2 linked regions of the Homo sapiens genome follow. The protein of the gene in region 1 binds, or shares a complex with, the protein of each later gene. Each region holds a gene or a part of one and is shown in the gene's direction. Other genes may lie near its edges.

What was found. The genes of interacting proteins can lie anywhere in the genome.
Region 2: the proteins of NELFA (region 1) and NELFCD are in contact, whole or in part, in a crystal structure (PDB 5L3X), measured with the Homo sapiens proteins. Residues at the interface, in NP_005654.4 of Homo sapiens: Leu23, Trp24, Ala25, Leu54, Leu58, Leu61, His62, Arg65, Pro88, Trp89, Met92, Val93, Ile96, Leu97, Phe100, Gly104, Ser105, Leu106, Leu108, Leu110, Asn116, Val117, Asp119, Ile120, Leu121, Glu123, Leu124, Arg125, Lys127, Val128; in XP_047296144.1 of Homo sapiens: Cys204, Gln205, Gln206, Leu207, Glu208, Phe210, Ser211, Leu214, Arg215, Leu218, Ala219, Ile221, Leu222, Asp223, Gly225, Glu226, Cys241, His242, Gly243, Glu244, His245, Thr246, Tyr247, Leu248, Phe249, Ala252, Met253, Ser255, Val256, Leu257.

The regions. Positions count from the first base shown.
Region 1 is NC_000004.12:1,980,695-1,985,942, reverse strand, and holds the end of NELFA (negative elongation factor A), read left to right. Parts: intron 1-78; coding exon 79-167; intron 168-1,023; coding exon 1,024-1,135; intron 1,136-1,829; coding exon 1,830-2,095; intron 2,096-2,247; coding exon 2,248-2,347; intron 2,348-2,439; coding exon 2,440-2,624; 3' UTR 2,625-3,220; downstream 3,221-5,248. UniProt on the Homo sapiens protein: Essential component of the NELF complex, a complex that negatively regulates the elongation of transcription by RNA polymerase II.
Region 2 is NC_000020.11:58,990,616-58,996,019, forward strand, and holds the end of NELFCD (negative elongation factor C/D), read left to right. Parts: intron 1-294; coding exon 295-460; intron 461-696; coding exon 697-831; intron 832-1,265; coding exon 1,266-1,405; intron 1,406-2,382; coding exon 2,383-2,497; intron 2,498-2,833; coding exon 2,834-2,929; intron 2,930-3,008; coding exon 3,009-3,149; intron 3,150-3,494; coding exon 3,495-3,624; intron 3,625-4,026; coding exon 4,027-4,061; 3' UTR 4,062-4,498; downstream 4,499-5,404. Other genes in the region: CTSZ (cathepsin Z preproprotein), read right to left, coding at 5,034-5,144. UniProt on the Homo sapiens protein: Essential component of the NELF complex, a complex that negatively regulates the elongation of transcription by RNA polymerase II.

The DNA.
Region 1 (5,248 bases):
TTTGATTCCCTGCCGCTGCCCTGAGCTGACACTGCAGACGCGCCCGGGCACTGGCGAGGACTCCTGTTTTGTCCACAGATGCGGAGGTGGTGGAGAAGCCGGCCAAGGAGGAAACGGTGGTGGAGAACGCCACCCCGGACTACGCAGCCGGCCTGGTGTCCACGCAGGTAGGGCTCGGGGCTGCACCCCATGTCTGGCACCACTGCGGGTGCCCCTTTTGTTCCGATTGTGGCCACTAGTGTGCTCTGTCGGAGAATATATATATGTATGTACATATGTGTGCAGTCTGTATTTATGTATATATACGTATATGTACATGAGAGGCAGTGTGGGCCGTGCCCTGACATGGGCATCTGACTCAGGCTTGGAGCGGGAACCTGCCCCACGCTTGCTGGAGGGGCTGCCAGGGGAGTCCTCCTCAACCCTGTGCCTCAGTGTCCCGTCAGGCAGGGCTGGTGGGACCTAAGCCTTGCACGTGGCCGTGAATGGGTGCAGGACAGGCCTGTGGGGGTGCTGGGTGGTCAGAGGCCTCAGTGTCCCGGAGACCAGGCCCTGCCTGCGGGTGGGAGGCAGCCACGGGGCGCGGCAGGTGCACAGAGGCTGCAGTGGGTCGTCTGAGGCCAGGGCCTGGAGGAGGCCACACTGTGGGGTCACTTCAGGATAATAAGCTCCTTTCTTCCCGCCGCTGCGTGTTCTGTGTTTCTTAACATGAGCATCTTCCTTTATATCAACGCTTCGTGGTAAGAAAAAGCATCGCTCCTTCTGTGCTCAAGATGGGCTGTTTGGGCTCCTCAACCCCTCCCCTCTCCTACACAGGAGCGGCTCAGTCCCCAACTCTGCTGGGGCGCCAGGGGCCAGGGGTCCCGTTGTCTAGCCCAGGGAGCTCGGGAGAGTGGCCCCCGCCTTCCTGCTCTAGCTCGGGGGGCCACAGCCTGTGGCAGTGGAGCTCCGGGTCGGGCCATGTGTTAGCACATGCCGGAAGCATGGCCTCTTCTGGAAGGAACCTTAAACTCTGTGTTCCAGAAACTTGGGTCCCTGAACAATGAGCCTGCGCTGCCCTCCACGAGCTACCTTCCCTCCACGCCCAGCGTGGTTCCCGCCTCCTCCTACATCCCCAGCTCCGAGACGCCCCCAGGTGAGTCTGCTGGCCCCAGCCTGGAACCAGCCAAGCTGCCTGCCAGGACATGACCTTGCCCACGGGCGCTGCCAGGGCTGCGGTTCTCACTCCTGCATCTCTGTTGTCCCCCTTCTGCCTCAGCCAGAATCTGCTGGGGGCAGATGCCCCGCTGTTCAGCTTGAGCTCCAAGACATAAACCAGCTGCTTTGCCCCACCCTGCCCGTCCTGGGCACAGACAGGCAGCGGCCCCAGGGGACACGGCAGGAAGGGGATTGGGTTCGAAAGGGTTTTCTGCCAGGTGACCCAGCTCTTGTTGCTGGGTAGGCGGGAGGGGAGCTGAGAGCCATCCCCTCCCAGACGGAGGGCACTGCCAGGCTCACAGCACCTCAGGCCAGGTCCTGGGCCCAAGGGGCTTGAGGATACAGCCTTCCTGTCTTCCCAGCAGTGCCTACGGTATGGGGACCTGCTGCAGGCCAGCAGCTGGCCAGAGTCCAGACATCTTATCTGCGAGTCTGGAAAGGCCTGAGACCACTGGCCTTGTTCCTCTGGCTGGGGCTTCTGGGGCCTGTGCCTTGGCTGGGGGCCACAGGGAGTTCTTGTCAGAGGGTAGCAGGACAGAGAAGGGGAGCTGAGCCTGTCACCTCCAGGAGCACTAGGGTTTGGGAACAGGGTGGGGGTCCAGCCCCCTCACCAGGCCCCGGTCTACTTGCAGCCCCATCTTCCCGGGAAGCCAGCCGCCCACCAGAGGAGCCCAGCGCCCCGAGCCCCACGTTGCCAGCGCAGTTCAAGCAGCGGGCGCCCATGTACAACAGCGGCCTGAGCCCTGCCACACCCACGCCTGCGGCGCCCACCTCGCCTCTGACACCCACCACACCTCCGGCTGTCGCCCCTACCACTCAGACACCCCCGGTTGCCATGGTGGCCCCGCAGACCCAGGCCCCTGCTCAGCAGCAGCCTAAGAAGAACCTGTCCCTCACGGTAGGTGTACACTGGTAGGGCCCACAGGCCACCAGGTAGGTGGTACGGCCCTGGCCACCTCCCCTAGCGTGGGGGTGCCACGGTGCCTGCAGGGGGATGCAGGAGGTGGTCCTGGCGGGGCCCTGGCACCCACACCCCTCTCCCCGCTGTAGAGAGAGCAGATGTTCGCTGCCCAGGAGATGTTCAAGACGGCCAACAAAGTCACGCGGCCCGAGAAGGCCCTCATCCTGGGCTTCATGGCCGGCTCCCGAGGTATGTTCATAAGGCAGGGCCTGGGGGTGCACCGGGCCGGGTTGGGGGCGGGTGCCCCCAGACACCCACCCAGCAGCTCCTGCTCTCTGCAGAGAACCCGTGCCAGGAGCAGGGGGACGTGATCCAGATCAAGCTGAGCGAGCACACGGAGGACCTGCCCAAGGCGGACGGCCAGGGTAGCACAACCATGCTGGTGGACACAGTGTTTGAGATGAACTATGCCACGGGCCAGTGGACGCGCTTCAAGAAGTACAAGCCCATGACCAATGTGTCCTAGAACCACCTGCCTCACAGCTGGCCGTCACTTGTGGGGGTCCACGGGACGATGGCTTTGCCAGCTTAAAGTAACCGGATGGCGGACACCTGGCCCCCGAGGTCCCCCGGCCGCCGCCCTGCTGCTGACCCAGCCTGTTTTAAGTTCTGGATGCATTTCTCTGGGGTATTTGGGGCTTATTTTTAAAATTTTAATATGGGTTCTTTTTTGTGTGATTTAAGACACTTTTTGGACTCAACGTTACATTTTTGAATGTAGTAAGTAAATTAACCAAAAAAGTTACAACTTCCTAATTTTAGTGACAGCTCTGCCTGTTAGACTCTTACTTTTTAAAATCTTTTCTATTTTCCCTCGCTGGGGCAGTGCCCTCCTACCCCCAGGGTTGAGGGGACCAAGGTGGCACGGTGGTACTGGGGGTGCGGCAGGGACACCCGACCACACCAGAGCGTGGGAGACGGTGGGCCTTGTCCCCTGCCTGTGCCTGCCTGGGAGTTTTGTATTCATCTTTTGTATAGTTGTGGACATTTAAGACAGTCTTTGGGTACCTATTTTCATTGTAAAACTATCTGAACCATTAAAGTCGAGCTTTTCTAAAGAAAGCCACCATAGCTGTGTTTGGGGCCAGCTTGTCCTCCCTGCTCCGGGGACCCAGTCCCTCCCTAGGCGGCCATCAGGACGGGGTGGGCCAGGGCTGGGGGCTTCCTAGGACACCCTGGCCCACAGGGTGGGGAACAGGTAGGATCAGCCCTCGGGGTACTCCCTTGACTTACTTGGCTGTGGGCCTGGGGACCACCCGGCTCAGCCGACTGCAGGGCTGGGGGACAGCAGTGCTTCCTTCTCTCTAGACCATTTCACCCTTAATGGGAATTTGGGAAGCAAATTATTTCTGAAAGAAGAAGAAAGCATTTTTCCAAAGTCAGTCAGTTATGCCTGCTATTTCCAGTATTTGTTGTTATACTTCCCAAGGTGGCACTGCCTCTCCCCAGCGGGTCAGGTCAAAGGCAAAATGACACAGTCAGGACAGGGAGCCCCACCCATCGGAGGCATCAGTGCCACACCCGATGCTTTGCAATTCAAAGTAACTGGAAAAAAAATCAAACAATCCCATATAAAATAAGTTAAGAAAAAAGCCTTTAAAATGTTTTTAATACAAAAATACTCATACACAATTTTCCAAACACAGCTTTCCATTTTAAATGCTATTTTCCCCCAACTGGCAAGTCTCAACTCTCTATTTCAGTATATCCCTCCCCCCAAAAAGTGAATTTCAAGTTTTTAAGTCTAACTATCAAACCTGGTGACAGCACCCAGTATTCCTAAAAGGAATCTGACCTTACATTGTATGAAGTTTAGACACCAATAGGCACATTTAAGTTTGTATTTAATTTCTGACGGGGCATTTCACACCTCAACAGGGTATGGTGAGGCTGTGACACCCCGTGGACACAGCATTTTACTCTACTGACTAACAAACAGTCATCAACTACACTCATAGGATCAAGATATTTGGCAACTGACAGTCATTTGCATTAACTTGAATTATAAAACAGGTTTAATTCTGGAAAATAAGGTAGTCCTGGAAGATGGGCACTGCACACGCCGGGGTTTAGATGTCAAGACAGACAAACACTGCGAAGGGGACCCAGCCAGCCATGGACGGGTGTCGCCGGAAGAAAGGCCGGCCTGAGGACGGACAGCTGGGTTCTCACTTCAGGTGCCTGAAGAGTTTCCCCCACAGGTGACCACATTTTAAGCTGCCCATTCGGACACATCCCCCTGTGGGCGCACACGGGTGGGTATGGGTTTAGGTGCAGATGCTGGTTTCGGATGCCAAGGAATCCTGAGGGATTGGGGCGGTTTTTGTGTTTTGCTTCACATTAATGATGGAGGATTGAAGCTGATGTTCAGGAAGTCACCACGTCCTCAGAACAAAGCTGGGCAGGGCCGAGAGCCAGCCACACCCACGGTCACAGCTGGGGGCGTGGTCAGCCCCAGTGGCGAGAAACCCTGCAAGCTCAGGGCCGCTACCCCAAAGCCTGGCTCCACTGAGTTATCAACGGGTATTGTAGAGACATTCAAAGTTAGTGTTACTTGCTCATTAGTTTAACAGTTTTTGGAAAGGGGGAGAAACATATTTAAAATGTTTGCATTATTTCCTTCAGAAAAATCATAAAATTTGGAAGTATTATCAAAGCGATTAAAAATCACAAGATTTCACTACTGTCCAACACAAAAATAAGTTAATATCTGCTCCCCAAAGTGCACTGCAAAGCCGATTCTGCTGTTTTGACGTAAGCATTGGTAGTCCCTTACCTGCCGGAAGGGATCTTTTGGGCAAGTGACAGCGGGGCCCTGGGGCCTTCGACTCTAAGGTGTGTGTGGGGACACTGCCCGGCCTGTCCCTAGAACAACCTTCCAAGTTAGGGCATCATAAGGAGCATAAATCTATGAGCCGATCCAGTATTTTCTTAGGACACTTTGGGAGAAGTTAGAGTCTGAACTGGAAAGCACTACTCCCACCCTGTCTTAACCGGCGAGTGCCCCTCAGAGGCCACGGCCGCGCGAGCAAGTCAGTGGCTACACAGCTCGTTTCCCCTGGGTCCTCTGTGTAGTTAACTTTGCTGGGG
Region 2 (5,404 bases), on another chromosome or scaffold:
GCTCAGCAATCTCATTGTTACAGTGTCGCAAAATGAGCTCATATTAGCTTTATTTTCTGCTACCAATAGAGTGTTCCTAAGTATTTAAAGTGTGTGACTCCTTTCTTATAGAGCCAGCAAGCTGTATTGGAATCACTTTTCCAGTGTTGTAAATGTTATTTTTGTGGGTCAGTCAGTATACTCGTGAATGACAGAAAAACAGATCCCAACAATGCAAAGTATTATATGTGTAAAAAAGAACAGAAAAAAGAAGCTGCCTTGTTAGTAACGGGGTCTATGGTTTTTCTCATCAAGAGGTCATGACGCCAGTCAGATCACACTAGCCTTGGGCACAGCTGCCTCCTACCCCAGGGCCTGCCAGGCTCTCGGGGCCATGCTGTCCAAAGGAGCCCTGAACCCTGCTGACATCACCGTCCTGTTCAAGATGTTCACAAGCATGGACCCTCCTCCGGTTGAACTTGTAAGTTGCTTCTCAAGAATCCCCAATGTCAGCTGGTAAGGTGACTTTGGAAAGTCTGTGCTTGTCTGATTGTCTGAAGGCTGTGAATGCAAATCCATCATTGTCCTGGTCCTTCCTCAGTCACACTCTCTGCCTGGAGCCTGTTGGGCCCCTGCTGTGTAGGGAACCCTGAGGGGAGGTGGGTGAGCAGTGCCCTCACGCCTGCCATCCCGAACTGGGCATATGCTTCTCCTCAGATCCGCGTTCCAGCCTTCCTGGACCTGTTCATGCAGTCACTCTTTAAACCAGGGGCTCGGATCAACCAGGACCACAAGCACAAATACATCCACATCTTGGCGTACGCAGCAAGCGTGGTTGAGACCTGGAAGAAGGTACCATCGGTTCTGGGAATTTGTGGATTTTTTAGGAGACAAATATCCTCCTCTGCTTTGATATTATTTTGGAATTTTGGCTGCAAGAAATCTTGACCCTCCCTAGTATCAGGCATGTGTTTTCTTGTGTTTCTGCGTAGAGAAAGCACTAAACGTCTCCAGAAAATGTGCGTAATGTCTCCAATGCTCTGCAAACCGTAAATTGAAATGTGACTAAAGAAATGAAACTGATTTCCGTAAGACATGGACAAACACTAGTCTCATTGCTTTTCAGTTTCTGTACACTGTGTGACTGTGAAGTTTGACAGCTGAATTGACTCCCAACTTAAGTAGAAATAGGGAAAGTGCTTTGCAAGAAGTGGCCGACACCAGAACACCCCGACAGCAGGGATATCTGCCCTGTCAGGCTCACCAGCTTGTGTGTGTGTTTTCAGAACAAGCGAGTGAGCATCAATAAAGATGAGCTGAAGTCAACGTCAAAAGCTGTCGAAACCGTTCACAATTTGTGTTGCAACGAGAACAAAGGGGCCTCTGAACTAGTGGCAGAATTGAGCACACTTTATCAGTGTATTAGGTAAGCAAAACGAAACTCAGTTCTTAAATCAGTCCTTTGGGGAGGAGGTCGTTTGAGTTTTCATATTGAAAGCTCAAATAACAAAAGCTTCAGCGATACTTGTTCATTTTATTTATTTTTTCATTTTTAAACAGTATGTAGGGAACTTTAAACAGCTTTAGCAGCATGAGTAATTTTCAGATGTTTATTTGCCAGAAGTCTGTTGAGTACAAATTAGGCTAAGTAAAAGATAGCCAGAGTTAACAAAAATTGATTTGAAGGGTCTATTTATAGGTAAAGTTATGCCCACAAAGTATTGCTTACATAGAAATGATTTGTGATTATGCCAATCATATAAATAGACGTGTCCTAGAAATAGTGTGTCCTCTTAGGCATGTCTTTCCCCTAATAATTTATACTAGGGATGAAGAAAGAGTTTGCTAAATAAAGGTAAACTTCAACCCAGTCCACCAAACTCACTGAGTATCACTCATTAATGATCTTTTCCTTTCGATAAGTGGTTTAAAGTGAGCAGAGAATTGAACTCTGCTTCTTGCACCGCATGTTGAGTGGCTGCTGATCCATTCACACTATTTACTAATAAGCAGAGCTTACGCCAGGCACAGTGGCTCTGGCCTGGAATCCCAGCAATCTGGGAGGCCAAGGCAAGAAAATAGTTTGAGCCCAGGAGTTTGAGACCAGTCTGAGCAACATGGTGGACCCTCTCTCTACAAAAAATTAGCTAGACATGGTGGCACTCACCTGTAGTCCCAGGTACTCGGGAGGCTGCAGTGAGCCATGATTGTGTCATTGTACTCCAGCCTGGAAGACAGAGTGAGACCCTGTCTCAAAAAAAAAAAAAAAAAAGGGTTGGGGGGCGTATTGAAGGGTGAATGATGGAGTCATTTGAGTTTGTTTTTAACTTTCCTTTAATGCTTTTCTAGCATATTTTGTGTTTTAAATTGTTTTTTAAAGGAAGCATTCTGCCTTAACTGTAGGTTTCCAGTGGTAGCAATGGGTGTGCTGAAGTGGGTGGATTGGACTGTATCAGAACCAAGGTACTTTCAGCTGCAGACTGACCATACCCCTGTCCACCTGGCGTTGCTGGATGAGGTAAGAGGGCGGAGAGCTGTTCACAGCCTACACAGTGTCTGTCTCATGCTGTTTACGTTGGCATTAACATTGCATCTATTCAGTGAGTTTAGAGGATACTCTTCTCAAAAATAGTTATTTCTGTCCTGAGGATTTTCCTCTTAAGGACCTAGCTTCATTGACTGCAGAAATTTCTTAACCTCAGTCAAGTGTTACTGGAAGCTGATGGCCCTGGCTTAGGTGTCAGGACCTTCTTCCACAGTGATAAGCTCTTTGGTGGCTGTGACAGTGCCCAGTTTCTCTGTGTGCTGAGCGTGACCACACTGCTCAGCGAAGCTCCCTCTGGCCTGTTTGTAGATCAGCACCTGCCACCAGCTCCTGCACCCCCAGGTCCTGCAGCTGCTTGTTAAGCTTTTTGAGACTGAGCACTCCCAGCTGGACGTGATGGAGCAGGTGAGCAGTGCCCGTGGGGCTTGCCAGAGGGCTGAGGAGGACCCTCTCTAACCAGCTCCCTGTCCCCCTTCTTCTGTAGCTTGAGTTGAAGAAGACACTGCTGGACAGGATGGTTCACCTGCTGAGTCGAGGTTATGTACTTCCTGTTGTCAGTTACATCCGAAAGTGTCTGGAGAAGCTGGACACTGACATTTCACTCATTCGCTATTTTGTCACTGAGGTCAGCAATGCACCGTTGGTTTCATGTTTCATACTGTTTACACTAGCACTGCCCTTTTTGGCTTAATTTAGTTCATTTTGTACCTAACTGAGAACTGTGCTTTCTGATGTAGTGATGACAATGACAGATACTCGTTTACCAAAAAGCACCTTCTGCCTGCAGCAGCTGTATGACACACTTTACCTCCATTACCACCCTGGGCATCTGAATGTTGGAGATGGGTGGTGTCACCGGCCGGTGGGGGTGGGGAGGGATTTTTTCCAAACTGATGGCCATTTCACCCGGATGTCGGTGGATGCCCCGCACTAGTGTGCGGAAGAAGTCACCCTGTGCTCCCCCACGCAGGTGCTGGACGTCATTGCTCCTCCTTATACCTCTGACTTCGTGCAACTTTTCCTCCCCATCCTGGAGAATGACAGCATCGCAGGTACCATCAAAACGGAAGGCGAGCATGACCCTGTGACGGAGTTTATAGGTGAGGCCGACTGCCTAGCCCTTTACTACAATAGAAAATGTCAGCTGGGCGCGGTGGCTCATGCCTGTAATCCCAGCACTTTGGGAGGCCAAGGTGGGTGGATCACCTGAGGTTGGGAGTTCAAGACCAGCCCGACCAACATGGAGAAACCCCATCTCTACTAAAAATACAGCATTAGCTGGGCATGGTGGCACGTGCCTGTAATCCTAGCTACTCGGGAGGCTGAGGCAGGAGAATCGCTTAACCTGGGAGGCAGAGGTTGCAGTGAGCCAAGATCGCGCCATTGCACTCTATCCTGGGCAACAAGAGCAAAACTGCATCTCAAAAAAAAAAAAAAAAAAGAAAGAAAATGTCATGTTCTACTTCCTGTTTCTAACACAGTCACTGTTTTCCTCGTTAAAGCTCACTGCAAATCTAACTTCATCATGGTGAACTAATTTAGAGCATCCTCCAGAGCTGAAGCAGAACATTCCAGAACCCGTTGTGGAAAAACCCTTTCAAGAAGCTGTTTTAAGAGGCTCGGGCAGCGTCTTGAAAATGGGCACCGCTGGGAGGAGGTGGATGACTTCTTTACAAAGGAAAATGGTAGCAGCTTCAGTGAGAAACTGCCCTTACAAACAGTCCCTTCTCTGCTGTCAATCCAATACTGCTCCCAAATCCTGTTTTCAGTGTTCATTTCCCTCAAGGCAGGCGCTGGGCTCCCACGACCCCTCAGGACAGATCTGGCCGTCAGCCGCGGGCCGCTGGGAACTCCACTCGGGGAACTCCTTTCCAAGCTGACCTCAGTTTTCTCACAAGAACCCAGTTAGCTGATGTTTTATTGTAATTGTCTTAATTTGCTAAGAACAAGTAATAAGTAAATTTTTAAAAAGCCTTTCTGCTGGGTTGGATTAAGTCCTGATGTGACATTGTTTTTGTGTGCGAATAAGGCACGGGCAGCCTCAGTCTCGTGCAGAGCCAGATACTTTATTCATCACTTGGGCGATTTGAAACTGCCAACTCCCTCCCTCCCTCCCCCACCCTTGATTCTAAAGTGACATAAGAATGGTGATAAGTCTGAACTCTTTCACCTCTTAAATGCCATATTATTGCCCACAGTTGCCAAATACAAAATATCAAGTCCTCTGCTGAAGAAGACTGAGGTCCCATCGTTTCCTGTGTCGCAGGTCACTTCTTCACCAGGTGGCTGACTGCATCATTGTGAGGCAGAGCCATGCTGTGCAAGTGTCATAAGTCATCCCACTTTCAACTCTCAGGAACACTCGCAGCCAGTGCCACGCTGTCCTCGCCATCCAATATTGATAGCCACCCCAGTTCCTGCCAGCCAGCCTGGCACACATAACCATAGGATCCCCTCTGGTCATGGGTCACCATGCCTTTTCTTAAACTGCGCTTCTAGTGACATGGCCTTAAACGATGGGGTCCCCAAATGTACAGTGCTCCTCGATGGCAAGGTTGTATCTGGCGCCCTTCCCATCCTTATAGGTGCTGGTCACGATCCTCAGCCAGCCTCTCTCGCCCTGTGAGAAGTGGGATCGCGCGTCAGCCCATCTGCAGCCGTCTCCCGCTCCCCTTGCTGCCGTCAGCCCCCTGCCCCCTGCTTTCTGCCTCCATCTCTCAGGCCAGCCTTGGGGGATCCAGACAGCCCACTCAGCTGCCCCTCAGCTTTCCCATGACCCCTGTTCTGAAATACCTTTTGTGAAACATTTCACTTGGTTAATGTTTAACATGAGGGCCCTCTATGCCAGAAGTGAATTCATCTCACAAAACATGTTGACTC